Linked DNA regions of Homo sapiens: region 2 is linked to region 1. Evidence: fine-mapped expression QTL. Tissue or cell type: whole blood. Region 1 holds a variant in brackets; the other region holds the start of a gene. All regions are shown on one strand. Distances are from middle to middle.

Evidence for each region. PIP is the estimated chance that this variant, and not a neighbour inherited with it, causes the effect.
Region 2: TMEM65 starts here. The variant in region 1 is fine-mapped to the expression of TMEM65 in whole blood (TOPMed, PIP above 0.99).

What each region holds. Positions count from the first base shown.
Region 1 is chr8:124,286,306-124,294,413 of GRCh38, forward strand. It overlaps the pseudogene LOC112268031. Among named protein-coding and RNA genes, the nearest start is that of TMEM65, 82 kb to the right of the region's middle. The variant C/T (reference allele first, on the strand shown) is at 3,894.
Region 2 is chr8:124,367,925-124,376,032 of GRCh38, forward strand. TMEM65 (transmembrane protein 65) reads right to left here and starts at 4,777. Exons shown (of 7, transcript NM_194291.3): 1 at 3,930-4,777. The coding sequence starts at 4,233. RefSeq lists silencers at 3,800-3,849, 3,860-3,989, 4,040-4,169, 4,300-4,569, 4,690-4,919 and enhancers at 4,644-4,938, 5,150-5,339.

The DNA.
Region 1 (8,108 bases):
GTTTGGGGCTCAACTGAGCAGTTCTTCTGCTGGTCTTTACAGTGGTCACTTTTGTGGCTGCATTTAGCTACAGGAAAGCTGGGCCTGGGGTCAGCTATTGTTTTCAGCCAATTTGATCTCTCCCTCCTCCCCTACCCTCCTCTCTCTCCTCTCTCCTCTCCTCTATCTCTCTCTCTCTCTCATTCCATGTAATCTCAGGGCTTCTCCTCATGTGGATTTGCCATGTGATCTCTTCAGTGGCAACCAAACTTCTTACATGGCAGCTTAAGATTCCCAAGAGTACAAAAGAAGAGGTCATTAGGACTTCTTAAGACTGAGGCCTGCAATGAGCATAGTACCACTTCTGCCACGATCTAAAGAAAATCATCCTCAGCACAGATTCAAAAAGAAGGAACTACACAAGGGAGCCCCCAAACTCAGAACTTGCCCTAGATGGTCCTGCGTGTGTGGTTATTAAACTACCAAAATGGGCCAGGTGCGGTGGCTCACGCCTGTAATCCCAGCACTTTGTGAGGCCGAGTCGGGCGGATCACCTGAGGTCAGGAGTTCGAGACCAACCTGGGCAACATGATGAAACCCAGTCTCTACTAAAAATACAAAAATTAGCCTGGCATGGTGGTGGGTGCCTGAAATCCCAGCTACTCTGGAGGCTGAGGCAGGAGAATTGCCTGAACCTGGGAGGCAGAGGCTGCAGTGAGCAGAGATCATGCCACTGCACTCCAGCCTGGGTGACCAAGCAAGACTCCATCTCAAAATAATAATAATAATAATAATAATAATAATAATAATAATAATAAAAAAACACAAAATCAAATAAAATACTATAATGTTTAAGGCTCCACATTTACATTTTGTATCCCGTACCTGTGTCTGCGTCCCAACAAAACTATTTTAAATCATTCATAAATTATTTTCGGAAGGGGTGAATATCTTTACTCCTGGACCTAGGTGTCACTGTTTTCTACCCTTATCTGTAGAAGGGGAGAGTTTCCACTCAGCTACTTCAGCGGGTGGGTTGTGAAACTAAAACGAGATCCTTTGCATGAAGATGCTTTGCGAACCAAGATACATGTTGAGCATCATCAAGATCTCAAGATCACAGTCCCTCCTGGTCTGCGGAGGTCCCAAGAGTACTGAAAGTGGCCTGACTGCTCTACACACTCAGAACTTCCCATGGGATTGAGCAATGGAAACTACCATTCAAATTTCATTGCCGGCTTGTAACAGAGTAATTTACCAATGGACAGACTCAAAATTTTATAAGTTTTCTCTCTCTCTCTCTCTCTCTCTCTCTGTGTGTGTGTGTGTGTGTGCACGCGCATATGTGTGTGGTGTATACTTTTCTTTCTTATAACATCTCCTTCTTTCTGGCTTTTCCATCTTTCCTTTTCTATTATCCAGTCTTTCCTTGGAGCTCCGACTACAAGAGTCCCGTTTTTCCAGATTCGTCTCAGCCTGGTATCTTTCACCTGCAGCACTACTTCTGCAGCATCTGGGTGCTATCAATTTTGATATATATTTTTTTTTCTTCAGCTTCAGTAAAATTTTGAAAAATCTACTAAAAAAAAAGAACTCTAGAGGGCAGAGAAAAATGAGCTATTCTTATTTACAGTGAAATCCATCACTGGAACTGCTGTCTGGGGTTAATAAAAAGACTTCTGGAAGACAAGGCATTTAACTATTCCCACAGCAACAAGGGAATCAGGCCTTTCTCTGTGACCCAATAGTTGTTTATGGAAGTACCAACTCCCAGGCAAATAACATAAAATTTAGAGACCAAAGACCTCGGTGTTAAAGAACCATCTCTGTCATTCATTGTGATCTTGAAGTTCTCAGAATTCAAGCTCCCTGCCTAGGAAACCTCTGGATGAATCATCAGAGACCTCTGGATGAATTATGATCACTGTTTCTGAACAGATGCTGAGGGTTACGGGTGACAGTACCAGAGGTGAAGGGTCAAGCAGGGCACACACACAGCAGGCCCTTCTGGAACATTGACAGGGAGGGGAGAAATTCAGAGAAAAGACCCATCGCAGGTATGTGAGCCCTGTTGCCCATTGCATTCAAACAGCACAGAAGAATCTAGCAGGGCCAAACGTCAAGCATTGGAAGAGAAACCTCAGTCTTTTGGCTGTAGGGCTTTAAAAAAAAAAATTTGCATGATTGAGAGAGTATAAGCTGCTCCCATGGTGTGATCAAGGGCTGGGGTCCAAACCCATGGTCCCAGCAATATGATGTGGCAGAACCTTGGCCTCCATTTTTGGGTCATCACCTCAGCACTTAGCAGTTGGCAAAATCAAAAGGCTGGGGTCAAGCTTTGGGGGCTGCAGCTGCATAACAACGTAGAACCTCCATATGCAGCCCAGGTCTATGGTCTACTAACTCAGTATTTTAGGTTGGGTGAGCATCAATCCAACCAAACCGCCACTTCAGAATTCTACCATAAGTTGGGTTGATTGTCTTAAACTCACAGCAGTAGCTGGTTTCTGTGGAGTGTTTCAGGGGCCAGCCTGTGAGGAACCAGACTTGGATAAATTAGCCCTTACTTTTCAGTGGGGTAATAAAGAATACTACTTTTTCCCATTTGAGTTCTGAACTTTTTGAGAAAATAAATAAGCCAGGTAGTTGAAGATAAAAATAACAGCCTTACAGCTGATAAAGGTAGGGGTGGAAATATGGCTGAGGTATGCCGCAACGATGGGCTTCCTAATTTTGCACCCCAGAACTAGGCCAAGCTACCAAATGTCAGGAATCTTTTGTAAAGCATGGGTCTCCCTCTGCAAGAATAAAATGTTTCCTAATACAATTATTAATGGCCAATTTCTCTGTAGGGAGGCTGATTGCAAAGGAGACCTAGCCAGTGCCAAGTTTCCCACCTCACCCCACAACACAACCATCATAAATAAAATGTGGTAGATATAGAGGTGGTAGATATAGACAACCCAGGGAAGGGGAGGAGTCAGGCCAGGGGCTGAGAAAGGCTAAGGCTACAGTCAACAGCCTATCAGAAAAAGGTGCCGGGATATCAAGTATCTCCTCTTAACCAATTCTGAGGAAGCCAGCGGATATTAGTCAGTCCTGTTTCACATGAGAAAAGAGCTGTGTCTGAAGTTTTCCATCAAATGAAAGCCCCCATTTTTTACCCTATGGATGTTTAGTGTTATTGTAATGTATGAATATATGTATGTATTTATTTATTTATTTTGAGGTAGAGTCTCACTCTGTCACCCGGGCTGGAGTGCAGTGGCGCGATCTCAGCTCACTGCAACCTCCACCTCCTGGGTTCAAACGATTCTCCTGATTCAGCCTCCCAAGTAGCAGGGACCACACGTGTGTGCCTGACTAGTTTTTTGTATTTTCAGTAGAGACCGGTTTTTGCCATGTTGGCCAGGCTGGTCTCGAACTCCTGGACTTAAGTGATTCTCCTGCCTCAACCTCTCAAAGTTCTGGAATTACAGGTGTGAGCCATGCGCCCGGCCTGTTCAGTGTTATTATAAGATAACAGCTGTTCCAATGACAAAGCCACTTCCCATGCAAAGTTTCATTCAATCTTAAAGCAAATCTGAGATCATAATAATGTGTAGTACTCATTTTTCATATGAGCTAAATGACTTGCCTAGGATCTCACAAGACCTAAGACTTAGATTTAAATATTATTTCAATAATCCCACAGGAGTTTCATAAGACTTTATCAGCTTCTCATAACACAAGAAAATATTGGGAGGATCCAAATCATTGCATTTCAGTATATTCATTTTAGGAGTAGCAGTGGCACAAATAACTTTAAAATTTGTTTTTTAGCTGGGCGTGGTGGCTTACACTTGTAATCCCAACACCTTGGGAGGTTGAGGTGGAAGGATTGCTTGAGGACAAGAGTTTGAGGCCAGCCTGGG[C/T]GACATAGTGAGACTTCATCACTACAAAAAAAAAAAAAAAAAAAAAGCTAGGCACAGTGGTACATCCCTATAGTCCCAACTACTGGAGAGGCTGAGGCAGGATGATAGCTTGAGCCCAGGAATTTGAGGTTGCAGTGAGCCCTGATCACACTTAACTTTCATCAGAAATGTGTCTGACAGACTGAAAATTCAATACTTAAAATAATTAAGTGACACAATAAATGCCGAAAGGGAAAGTGGAATGTTTTCACTTTCCCACTATTTTTCAGGTCAAAACATGTACAGGTTCCAATTTTTTTTTCGAATATTTTACAACCAAATTGAAGGGAGGAGAAAGACTGTTAAAAACTGGTGTCTTTTTTTTTTTTTTCTGAGATGGAGTCTCACTCAGTGACCCCAAGCTAGACTACAGTGGCGTGATTTCAGCTCACTGCAACTTCTGCATCCTGGGTTCAAGTGATTCTCCTGCCTCAGCCTCCAGAGTAGCTGGTATTACAGGCACGCACCACCACACCCAGCTAATTTTTGTATTTTTAGTAGTGACCATGTTTCACCATGTTGGCCAGGCTGGTCTTGAACTCCTGACCTCAAGTGATCCACCTGCCTCGGACTCCCAAAGTGCTGGGATTACAGGTGTGAGCCACCGTGCCTGGCCCAAAAAAAAAACTTGTATTTTTACTACAATAATTTACTGAGCACCTTCTACATGTCAAGGATTTTACCAGGCACTAAACACATAGAATTTCAATCCTTATAACCCTACAACAGAGGTCACCATTTTATAAATTTTATTGTCCCCATTTTATAAACAGGGGCACTTGAGCTCAGAGAAGTTAATTCTCTTGTGTAAGTTCCCACCCCCGGGAATTGAATAACCTGGACTTGTTTGATTCCAAATGACAAATACTATTAACATAGCTGTGGAAAAGCAAAAGCCTTCAGCTGTGAAATTGCTGTATATTAATATCTTCTTACGTGACTGGTGGCTAGGCTTATCAGCAGCAACCATTCCCCTCAGAGACTCAAGGCACAAAAAGAACCCTGAAGAATCGTGAATAGTTTAAATCTACTCATTTATCTTTAATGAGTTTACAACTCTCTCATCAAGACTTCAGAAGTTCAAAATTGATAATGATCCTAATTTTTAAAACCACATAGAAAGAGGAATAATCTATAGTATTGTATTATGACAAATACCAAAGACACAACAAATGAATTAGAAATAGCCTTTGCATTCTAGGAGCTCAATGTTGAGGCATGGCACAACTGAGGTAAAACAGAGTGTTCATGGTATCCACAGGGAGCCACGAAATCATGGAGAATTTAATTCACTAATTTAAACCGAACTGATGTCTTGCCCTCTAAGATTGCTACTTGCACTTTTCCTCAACTGGAATAATTCAACGTTTTTATTTTAAAAGGTTGCATTTACATTAAGTCTTACTGCAGAGTAAAGATTAACTAATATGAATACTAGCAAAGTGACTTATTGCCCAATACGTTGAATTATGTAAAAACAAAAAAGTATAACATAATGCTTTACTAGAACTTGGCAGCAACACTGTGAACTTTGTGGGTCACTCAGAATCCCAGAATCCTGGAGCTTGCAGAATACCCAAAAGACTGCAAATCTGGCCGGGCGGTGGCTCATGCCTGCAATCCCAGCACTTTGGGAGGCTGAGGCAGACGGACCACTTGAGGTGAGGAGTTCAAAACCAGCCTGGCCAACATGGTGAAACCCTGTTTCTACTAAAAATACAAAAAATTAGCAGGCGTGGTGGCAGTCGCCTGTAATCCCAGCTACCGGGGAGGCTGATTCAGGAGAATCGCTTGAACCCAGGAAGCGGAGGTGGCAGTGATCGTGTCACTACACTCCAGCCTTGGTGACAAGAGCGAGATCTTATTCCAAAAAATAAATAAATAAATAAAATAAAAAATAAATAGACTGCAAATCTCTCCGATACCATAAGAGTCTCAAGAGAAAGAATTGGATCTCATGATTCTGTTGACTCACCTTCCTCATAATTTGGTTCATTGTTGGACACCAAATACATCATGGGGAAAGTACATGAAGAAAATACTTATTTTGAATTGCATTTTGAATTTCTAAATTTTGCAGAGACAAAGAGAAAGGCTGAATCTCAGTCAGTTAAACTATTTATTAGCTGTCTGAGTGGGAAGAATATTGCAGGAAGATATAATTACAAAACCTGATATAGCCAGGATTCAGCTTAGAGCTTTCAGCCTGTTTATAAAATATGCCAAATATGAGATGGCAGGCAAAGGGTAATGTGTTAATAGCAGATAGGCAAAACACTGGCTGCAATTTCAGGAAAAGACTAAACAGAACAGCTCTACAACATACTTTGTCTCTTGGAATCTAACTGCTTAGAAAGGCCTAGAAATAAATAAGGAAAGTTTATTTTAGGCATCTTCAGCATTGTCCCTCTAAAATCTTTTATTTCATACACTGGGAAATATAAATACTAAAAGCATGGTACCAACCACCAGAATGTTTACTCTGTGAATTTAAAACCCCTAAATTATCCACCCCTCCCTTCAATTGCCTAACATAATACCACCCCAGAGTTGCAAAATTTGAAGAAGGGGAAAAAAAGCCTAAAATTTGGAATCAAAAGAGCTGTATTTAAATAAAGCTCTAGCTACTTAAGCAGCTACTCAACTCTTCTTATCTGTTGCCTTTACCTATTTGGCTATAAAAATGTTATTATTAAGATATTCTGGGCTGGGCGCAGTGGCTCACGCCTGTAATCCCAGCACTTTGGGAGGCAGAGGCGGGCAAATCACTTGAGGTCAGGAGTTTGAGACCAGCCTGGCCAACATGTTGAAACCCCATCTCTACTAAAAATACAAAATTAGCTGGGCACGGTGGTGTGTGCCTGTAGTCCCAGATACCTGGGAGGCTGAGGCAGGAGAATCGCTTGAACCCGGGAGGCGGAGGTTGCAGTGAGCCAAGAGCACGCCACTGCACTCCAGCCTGGGCAACAGAGTGAGACTACATCTCAAAAAAAAAAAAAAGATACTCTGATGGCTCATCAATATTTGCCCTTTGCTTTTGCCTGCTTTGGAGATCATGATTTTAAATTATTTGGAATATATCTTTTCTCCCCTACCTCTACAACGATGCGTCTTCGTCTTCAACCCTGTTTTGTTTTGTTTTTTTTTTTTTTTTTGCCCTTACCTTTTACTTGTCTTGTCATCCGGAAAAATTCAACACTTATTGCATAGCGTGCAACATCTGTGATCGTTGCAAAGGGAAATACAAAGGTAAATAAGATCTAATTTCTGCCTTCAAGGAACTTATGATTTAATAGAAGGGATACAGGTACCAAAAATGCCTATAAGGCATAACCTGGAAGGGCAAATCATTATATTAATGATCTCCGTGTCCATGTCCCTTTACAATATGGCATAGTCATTTCTCACATCAGAAAGGTGGCATCAATTTCTCCATCCCCTTGAATTTGGGCTGTTTTTTAAAACTTGTTTTGATAAAGGGTCAAAGGTGGCAGGAGTGACAGTGCAATATCTAGGACCCGGGCAACCCATGAGACCTCATGGCTTCTGCATTTATTCATTAGGTACCCGACTGCCACATGAAGATTCAGTTAAGTACACAATACAGTGTTGTTAACTATATGCACGATGTTGTACAGTAGATCTCTAGGATTTATTCACCTTGCATAAGTGAAACTATGTACCCTTGGATCAACATCTCTCTGATTCACCCTCCCCCAAACCTTGGTAATCACCATTCAAGTCTCTGCTTCTGCTTCTACGAGTTTGATTATTTTAGATTCCTAAATGGAATAATTGAGTAGTTCTTCCGTGTTTGACTTTTATTTCCCCCACTTTGGAGACAGAGTCTCACTCTGTTGCCCAGGCTGGAGTGCAGTGGTGCAATCTCGGCTCACTGCAACCTCTGCCTCCCGGGTTCAAGCAATTCTCCTGCCTCAGCCTCCCAAGTAACTGGGATTTCAGGCACCCGCCACCATGCCCAGCTACTTTTTTGTATTTTTAGTAAAGGCGGGGCTTCACCATGTTGGCCAGGCTGGTCTCGAACTCCTGACCTCAAGTGATCCTGCCTCGGCCTCCCGAAGTGCTGGGATTACAGGCATGAGCCACCGCACTTGGCCTGGCTTATTTCATTTAGCATGTCTTCCACATTCATCCATGACGTAGCAAATGGCAGGA
Region 2 (8,108 bases), 82 kb after region 1:
ATTTGCTATATGTAAAAACAATCTCATTTTTTAAATATCTTAAGTATACATATTATAACAAAAATATTCCCTAAGAGGCTCCCTTTTTCAAAACATATCTCTCATTGTACCTCTCCAATAGCCAGTTCTTGTCTCTCTGTGTAAACTCTCTGATGAGCATTAATTACACCACCTTAAATAATGTGGAAGCCAACCTCAAAGATGTACCCCCGATGATTCCCACTCCCTTGTATTCACACCTTGTGTAGTACTCTCCCACAATGTGTCAGGACAAAAGAGATGGACTGTCACTTCGAAGACTGCGTTTTAAAAGTCTGTGGCTTATAGTATACATATTATAACAAAAATATTCCCTAAGAGGCTCCTTTTTTCAAAACATATCTCTCATTTTACCTCTCCAATAGCCAGTTCTTGTCTCTCTGTGTAACTCTCTGATGAGCATTAATTACACCACCTTAAATAAGTGTGGAAGCCAGCCTCAAAGATGTACCCCCGATGATTCCCACTCCCTTGTATTCACACCTTCTGTAGTACTCTCCCACAATGTGTCAGGACAAAAGAGATGGACTGTCACTACTAAGACTGTGTTATAAAAGTCTGTGGCTTCCAGCTTAGGTGCCCACAGGTGCTGTCTTGCAAACACACTCGCTCTCTCTTGCTCTCTCGCTCTCTCATCACTTGCTCTAGAGGAAACCCACTGCCATGTCATGAGAATACTCAGGCAGCCCTGTGGAGGACCACATGGGAGGGAATTGAGACATCCAGCCAACAGCCATGTGAGTGAGACTTCTTGGAAATGGATCCTCCAGCCCCAGTTAAGACTTCAGATGATGCCACCCCAGCTGAGAGCTTGATTTCAACTTCTTAAGATCCTGGGCCAGAAATACTCAACTAAGATGCTATAGCATTCCTGAGCCTCAGAAATTATGAGTTAATACATGCTTGTTTTAAGCCACTGTGTTTTAGGATAATTTGTTATACCGCAATGGATAACTAATACAATGAGCACTGTCTATTTTTCAATACCAAATTGCTATATTTTAAAAGCTTTAAAAAATAATTATAAATGGAAATATTAATTACAAAAATTGGGAAGAAAATTTGTTTTAAAAATTTTGGCTAACATTGAAAGGCCACTGTAATAATGTCAGCTTGCCAGTACTACTTGTAAAAACATGAATAATGCTCTATCAGCAGAATATGGTCTGTTTCTGGAAGAAGAGAGATCAGGCTGAGCAGGTAAATTGAAGGCGCAAACTCAACTTTTTTTTAAATTGGGAAAGAAATTGGTTTGTAATTTTAAAAATCACAATATTCTATTTAACTATGATAAGATATCCCACAAGGTCTGCCTTATCTATTACGAACTGATTCCAAAGCTTTATCTCATCACAGATTATATCACATGCCTACTGATAAACATATAAGAAAGATAAGGGCAAATGTGCCAAATTTCAACAGCAGATTCCACTGCCATATCAAAGCATGGATGATATTTTTTCAGTAACATTTCCATACCAAATCCAAAACACTTCATTAGTTTATACAAGCACCCTTTCCAAAGACACACAAGATTGCCTATGGCAAGAAATAGCCCTTTAAATAGAATTAATTTTGTTAGAAAGTACACTTAGTACACACACACAATACATCGGTTGAGTACTTCAAAACATTATTCAAAAAGCAACAATAAAAGAAAACATGGGAGTTTTTCATTTATCTGGCTGGAAAAAAATTGTTGATTTCAGCAATGGAATGAGCTGTACGCATTCCCAACATAATAAAATCCCTTTTACCTTAATGATTAATGAATAAGGTAATTTCCTAAGTGATGATTCTAGTTATCTCCATAACTATATGTATTGATACTGAAAACAGTAAGTGAACACCAAGACTACATACACTAACAAAGCAGCAGCATCTGTGTCATTTGATTCATAGGACAATCATTTTGTCATCGACATCAGCAAAAATAGCTGATTTAAACTTTGATGTTCTTTAGCATATAAAGAGGAGAGATAAGCATCTGACTAACCATTGTTTCAAATATCCTTGACTGTTTCTCCTGAGCAAAGAAGACAATTTAAATTACTAATTTCTCTCTCATATTAGTAACATAACTAAGTTTAATTGATGCTAATGATCTCCATTGACTAAAGTGCTTAGGTCCTTTTCAGAATATTTAAAACCACGTTAAATTTAAAAATATTATCTTTATTAGGAAATGTAGCATTGCTACTGCAATACTGCTGGCATGTAAAAAATAATAATGTATGAGAAAAAAATTATTCAGTCACCTTGCAGGACATGTTTTTCAAGAACTGCCACAAAACTATATTCATAGGGCCCTCCAATCTTGTAACTTGTTGACAATGCAGAATTTCCAAGAAATTACTTGGAAAAGGTAAAATGTGTGTTCAAATAGTCTTGTCAGTGCAGAAAGATTCAAAAGTTAATGTTCTAGTACATGACTGACTATATTATTTTTCCAAGGAGCATATTTTCAGAATTGACTATTTTTAAACTGCATACTGAGTGCACACATAGATTACAAATGTGCTAGTGTTTCATTATGATTGCATATAACATCATGATTACACATTGAATAACGGAATTGATCGGACGTTACATTTTCCTGTAAAAGCACTGTGGGTAAACAATGTCTGGAATCAATCATCCACTATAAATTGGTCCACAATTTCCTGAACTGAGGGGGAAAACATCTGATTAAAAGCCACAACTAAAACAAGTTTCTGAAGTAGTACAGATAACGTCCTGCTTACATGAGGTAGATAATTCTTTCCTCCATTCCTGCACATCAGCTAAAGATATACTTTCAAGTCTGGCAAATCAAATGGCATGATCCGAATCAATGTGCTCTACACTTTGGAATCTATGAGATGTTTATGTACCTACCAAGTTTAGAGAGGAGAGTAAACTTTTTTAAAACTTTCAAACACATCAGAATGTAATACAAACTGAAGCAATGTGTTTTGTTTACATAACTGTATTTAAGTGGCAGAAATATTTTAAGACATCCATTTTAGTCGTTTGCTCCTTTCATCCTTTTTATTTTCTGAACTTTTAGCTTTTTCACCTAGACTCAAATTCTGCCCTACCCCATTCTGGACTCCTTTTAGAAATATCCTATTTTAACATGCTAGTTTAAAAATCGTTTTGCTTTCATCATTCCCAATTACTTTTGAGCATCAGTCTGACTTTTACTACAGAGCCACAGATTTCCAAAAAATATACCTCCTTATTTATTTCATTCTTTCAACCTCTGGGAAAAACCAAAACTGGAGTTTAACTTGAATCTGTCTTTCCATTTCTGGAGAAAATGTTTCCTTTGGCTGCTGAAATTAACGCAATCAGACATGTGTGGAAACAAGCAGCTATGAGCATCCCTGACTTTCGAAGCTACACCCCTTCTTTTGGCTACCCACCCATACGTCTTCATTTGATAACCGTTCAAAAAGTTTCTTCCTGCCAGGCGGGTTTGCAGCACTTTCTCGGAGCAGGCACAGCATGCCACCTGCACGGGTGCACGCTCGCAAGAAAGCAGCAAGGGCTAAGGGACAGGAGGGCTGGGGAGGGGAGGCACGGGGCAAATCAAAACTCAATCCCAACAGCGTTAACTGGCATTTTAGGCCGAAGCTCCGGATTCGGAGGCTGGGGAGGAAGTAGCTAGCGCTGGCCTCGGCTGCCTGGCACGACCCGCGCCCGTCCTACCTGCCTGGGGGAAACTCGGGCGGCGGAAAGTCTCCCCGCCCCCAGCCGTCCCAGGCGTGGGGCCAGACAGGCGAGGGGGGCGGAAGGGGGGCGGCGGCGGGGGTCCAAGATCCAGGGCCGCAGCGGGCTCCCGGTGGGCTGGCGAGAAGAGGAGGGCGTCGGGGCCCCCGGGCTCGCCCCCCACCTGCCCCCCTTACCTTGGGCAATGGCAATAGACTCGAAGCGGTGCAGCTCTTTGAGCAGGCAGCTCCTCTCCGTGGAGTGCAGGCTGTAGATGAAGTCGCGCGCGCCCTGCGCCGTGTTCAGCGCCTCCATGGGCTCCTTCTTGGGGTGCGTGCCCAGCCGCCTGGGGCCGCCCGGCAAGCCGCCGGGGGGCGCGAGCGCCAGCAGCCCCCGCCCGCAGCAGCACCAGGACGGCGGGCGGGGCGCGGCGGCGGCGGCCGGGCCCGGCCTCAGGCTGCGCGCGGTCCGGCTCCTCAGCAGCGGCAGCAGCCGGGACATGGCGAGCTGAGGAGCTGGGACCCCCGCGGCCGTCCGGCAAGGCGGTTTCTGGCGCGGCTGAGGCGAGAAGGAGCTGGGCTCAGCTCGACCCCGCCCCGAGGTCCTCCTGCCAGGCAGCCGAGGCGCCGGGCACCATGCACTCCGCGGGCCCGCGCGGCTCTCGCCTCCTGTTCCGTCCCCACTTCCTTTCCAAAAGGCCCGCGGCGGCTCCCGCCCCTCCGATGGGAAAAACTTTCTCTGAGACGGCCGGGCCCGGACAGCGCCCGGAGAGGGCGGGCGGTCGGTGCGGGCGGGCGCCTCCCGGCTGAGGAGGAGCGGCGCGGGCGGGCGGGGCGGGCTAGTGTGTGTCTCTGTCAGTCTGATCTTCCAGAGGATGAGTCAGCCACGCACCGCCCTCCTCCAGCGCCGCCCTACTCTCCCGCCAGCTTTCTCACCCTCTAGCCTCCCCACGTCCCCACTCTGTAAGGTTCCCGAGCCCTCAAAGCAGCCGCGCTCCCGAGCCGCAGCCGCCGCCGCCGCCGCTACCCCTAGCGGCAGCAGAAGTGGGAACGGGGCGGGGCGAAAGGGGAAGGAGGTGCGGGGGGGCGGGGAGGTGTGTGAGCGAGGCTGCGCAGGCGCAGTCTGCAGGCTCTCGGGCCGCCCTCCCTCCTAGGGGAGGAGCGTGCACACGCGTCCCCTCCCGCGCTGGTGCGTGAAGGTGGAAGGAGGTAGGGTGCGCCACCCTGTGCTGGCGTTAAACCTACAGATCGGAATAGGGAAAACGAGCTCTGGACCCCTCGCCCGCCAGGGTAGTACAGCTGCCACCCGGCCCCCAACCTGGGGCCACATCTGGAGCTTGTTCTGAAAGGTGCCCCGGCGTGCGGCCCCGCTCTGGACAGGCGGAGAGCTGCGCTGCCACCCCAGCCCCGACGGGATCACGGCGCTCTGCTCCGGAACGAAGCGCCCCAGCTGCGCCCTTCGCCAAGTCAGCGCCCACCGCCGCTTCGGCCGAGCAGGCCGGCTCTAATGCAGTCGCTCTGGGCGCCCCAAAGAGAAAGCGAAGCCAGTTCCACCCCTGCCCAAGGAGGGTCTGAGACTGAGCCCTTGACACGAGAACAGTCCTCCCCGTTCAGATTCCAGCAGCTGGCATGCAAATTGTTAATGCTAGAGGCAGAGGCAAGAATGTCATAGACCTTTCCTAGTGGTTGCTTGTGATTTTTTTGTCTCTGTGCTAAAGCGGGAAGAATAATTTGATTGTCCACGATTTCCCCTGATCCAGGTCCTAGGCATCTTTCAAGGCCCAGGTGAAAGGTCTCCTACTTCATTAAGCTGTCCCTAATCTCTTCTAAGGGAGGAGATCTCTGCTTTATCTGAACCTGTCTAATGACGCTTAGGCACCCTTAGAGAATAAATCCACTTAATAAATCTGCTGGAGCGTAATCAAGATCTAAATCCCATCCTTATCATAAACAGTGCTGCACTCAGCCCGGAAACTTGTAGGTAGTAAATGTGCTACATGTAAGTAGAATATTAAACTGAATAATGGAGGATTGTTACCACTAAAGCCTCCTACTTCTCTAACTCTGGTTCTCAAAGTGTGTCCCAGAGCTTTTTAGACGTGAGAAATAGTGGACCCCACTTCACACCTCCTGAATCAGAACGTAGACATTGGACCCAGTCATGTGGGTTTTAACAAGCCCTCCAGTAATAACACACACGAAAGCTTGAGAAACACTGATGTCTCTTAAACATTGAAAGGAATCGCTTCTTTTTTAAATTCCAAGGTGATGCCTCTGTGATGTAATAACAACAATTAAGAATGCTCTCTGTGGAAATGAAAGCTTTTTGAGTGCATAAAGTATATCTTCCTTGTCTTTGAAACCCCCTTCATTCCCTAGTGTGCACTGGAATCCTCTGCAGAGCTATTTCAGTCTCAGGCTCATGGGAGTACCACCCCATCCCCCCCACAATTTCCTACCCCCAAGATATTCTGATTCACTGGGGTGGATCACAGGCCCCAGACCTGGGAAGTGAGGTTTGAAAAAAGTTCTTCAGTAAGAACCCATTCCCAACCACCTCCAGAATAGTAGTTTAGTGTGTAGCCTCCAGAGACAGACTGTGGAAAGTTCGATCCCTGGATCAACCGTCTCCTAACTATGTGTTAGTATTAGATTGTTATAGTAGTGATCCCCAATGAACTACACCTTCTATTATCCGCTCCGTTGTGTGGTCCACCTCTACATTGACTGTGGGCTTGGCTATTTGACTTGTTTTGGTCAATAAATAGGAGGACATCATAAACGTGATATGATACATGTTTGCTCATTGGGGTTTGCTGTAATGCTTTTGCTATATTACTATAGAATATTTAATTCTATTATAAAACAAGAGAAACTAAAATGTAGAAGCAAGTCACTTATGAGAAAGGTTACACATAGAATGAATGGATATGGGTTGAACATAGATAAAAAGGATGGAACAAATGAAAATGCTGCTTTAGATAGAGGCAGAAAGACAAAGTGGACTTTTAAGTATTAATAAGGTACAGATCATACTATCTTCAGATTTACAGCCATGTCATCCCTAAATTGCATACCTACTGGTAACACCCATTGTAACGCTATTATGGCCTCATGTAATCTCTTCCCAAGAAAAGCAGATAAACCCCCAGCTACAAAGCCAACTAATGCCAGCTACCATTATAACCAGACACACTTGCCCCTCAGCTCTGTAACAGAACAGACATATGTTGAGCCCAGGCCCCTTCAGTCTGTTGAGTCACCTTACTTACTCTCCAGTCTGGTCCTTGTAGCCACACTATGTGCTGAGAAGACTGGATGGTGGAGAGGGATAAGACATGAGAACATTGCATAAAACAGAATTTAGGTGCTATGGTCCTTCAGCCTATCCTAAGCTTATTAATCTACCCTATCTCTTTCCCCTTGCTTCTCACTCTGTTTTATGTTGGTTGGTAAACTCTTCTGGTTATTATTGCTGCTCTTTGGGTAGACACATTATGCCAAAACTTAGTAGTTTAATTAGCCAATTTATTTTGCTCTTAATTTTGAGGCTCAGAAATTGGGGAAGAACTTACTTGGACAGTTATTTTATTGGAGTCGTTTATGTAGTATCAATCAGATTTCAACACAACTGCTGTCATTTGAAAGTTCAGCTGGGCTGAATAGCTAAGATGGCTCACTGACATGGCTGACTGGTAGCTCAAATGGGGCTGAGAACCAGAGCACTTTCACACAGCCACTCCAGCATGGTGATCTTCTCACCAGACAGCTGGCTTTCCCCAGAGTGAATGTCTAAAAAGAAGCAGGCTTGTGGCGTTTTCTGACCTATCCTTGGAAGTCACACAGTATCACTTCCACTGTATTCTACTGGCTATAAGCCAACCCCTAGGGCCAGCCCCTATTCAAGGGAAAGGGATATAAACCCCACATCTTAATAGGAGTAATGCCAAAACCTTTGAGGATACGTTTTAGAACCACCAGATAATGTGATTTAAGCTTCTTAATTTGGCCTATAAGCCTATCTATTTCGTGACCTGTAGGTGTATACATGGAGGCTGCCATTGCATCAAGGTAATTTTCCACATGGAAAAATTGCCTCGAAGACATTTACCTTTTGGAATCCAGCTGCTGCATAAAGAAGTCTGATGTATCCTGCTGGAAAGACCAAATGGAGGAGGAGGCCGTAGCCAACAGCCCCAGCTAACTGCCAAACATGCATGACAGCATCTTGGACCATCCAGGCTCAATTGAGCCCCAGATGACAGCATTGGGGTTGAGAGCACTAGCTCTAGACTCAGACTGCCTGGATTTGAGTCCTTATACTGTCATTTCTTAGCTGTGTAACCTTGAGCTGATCAACCTTTCCGTGGTTGCCCA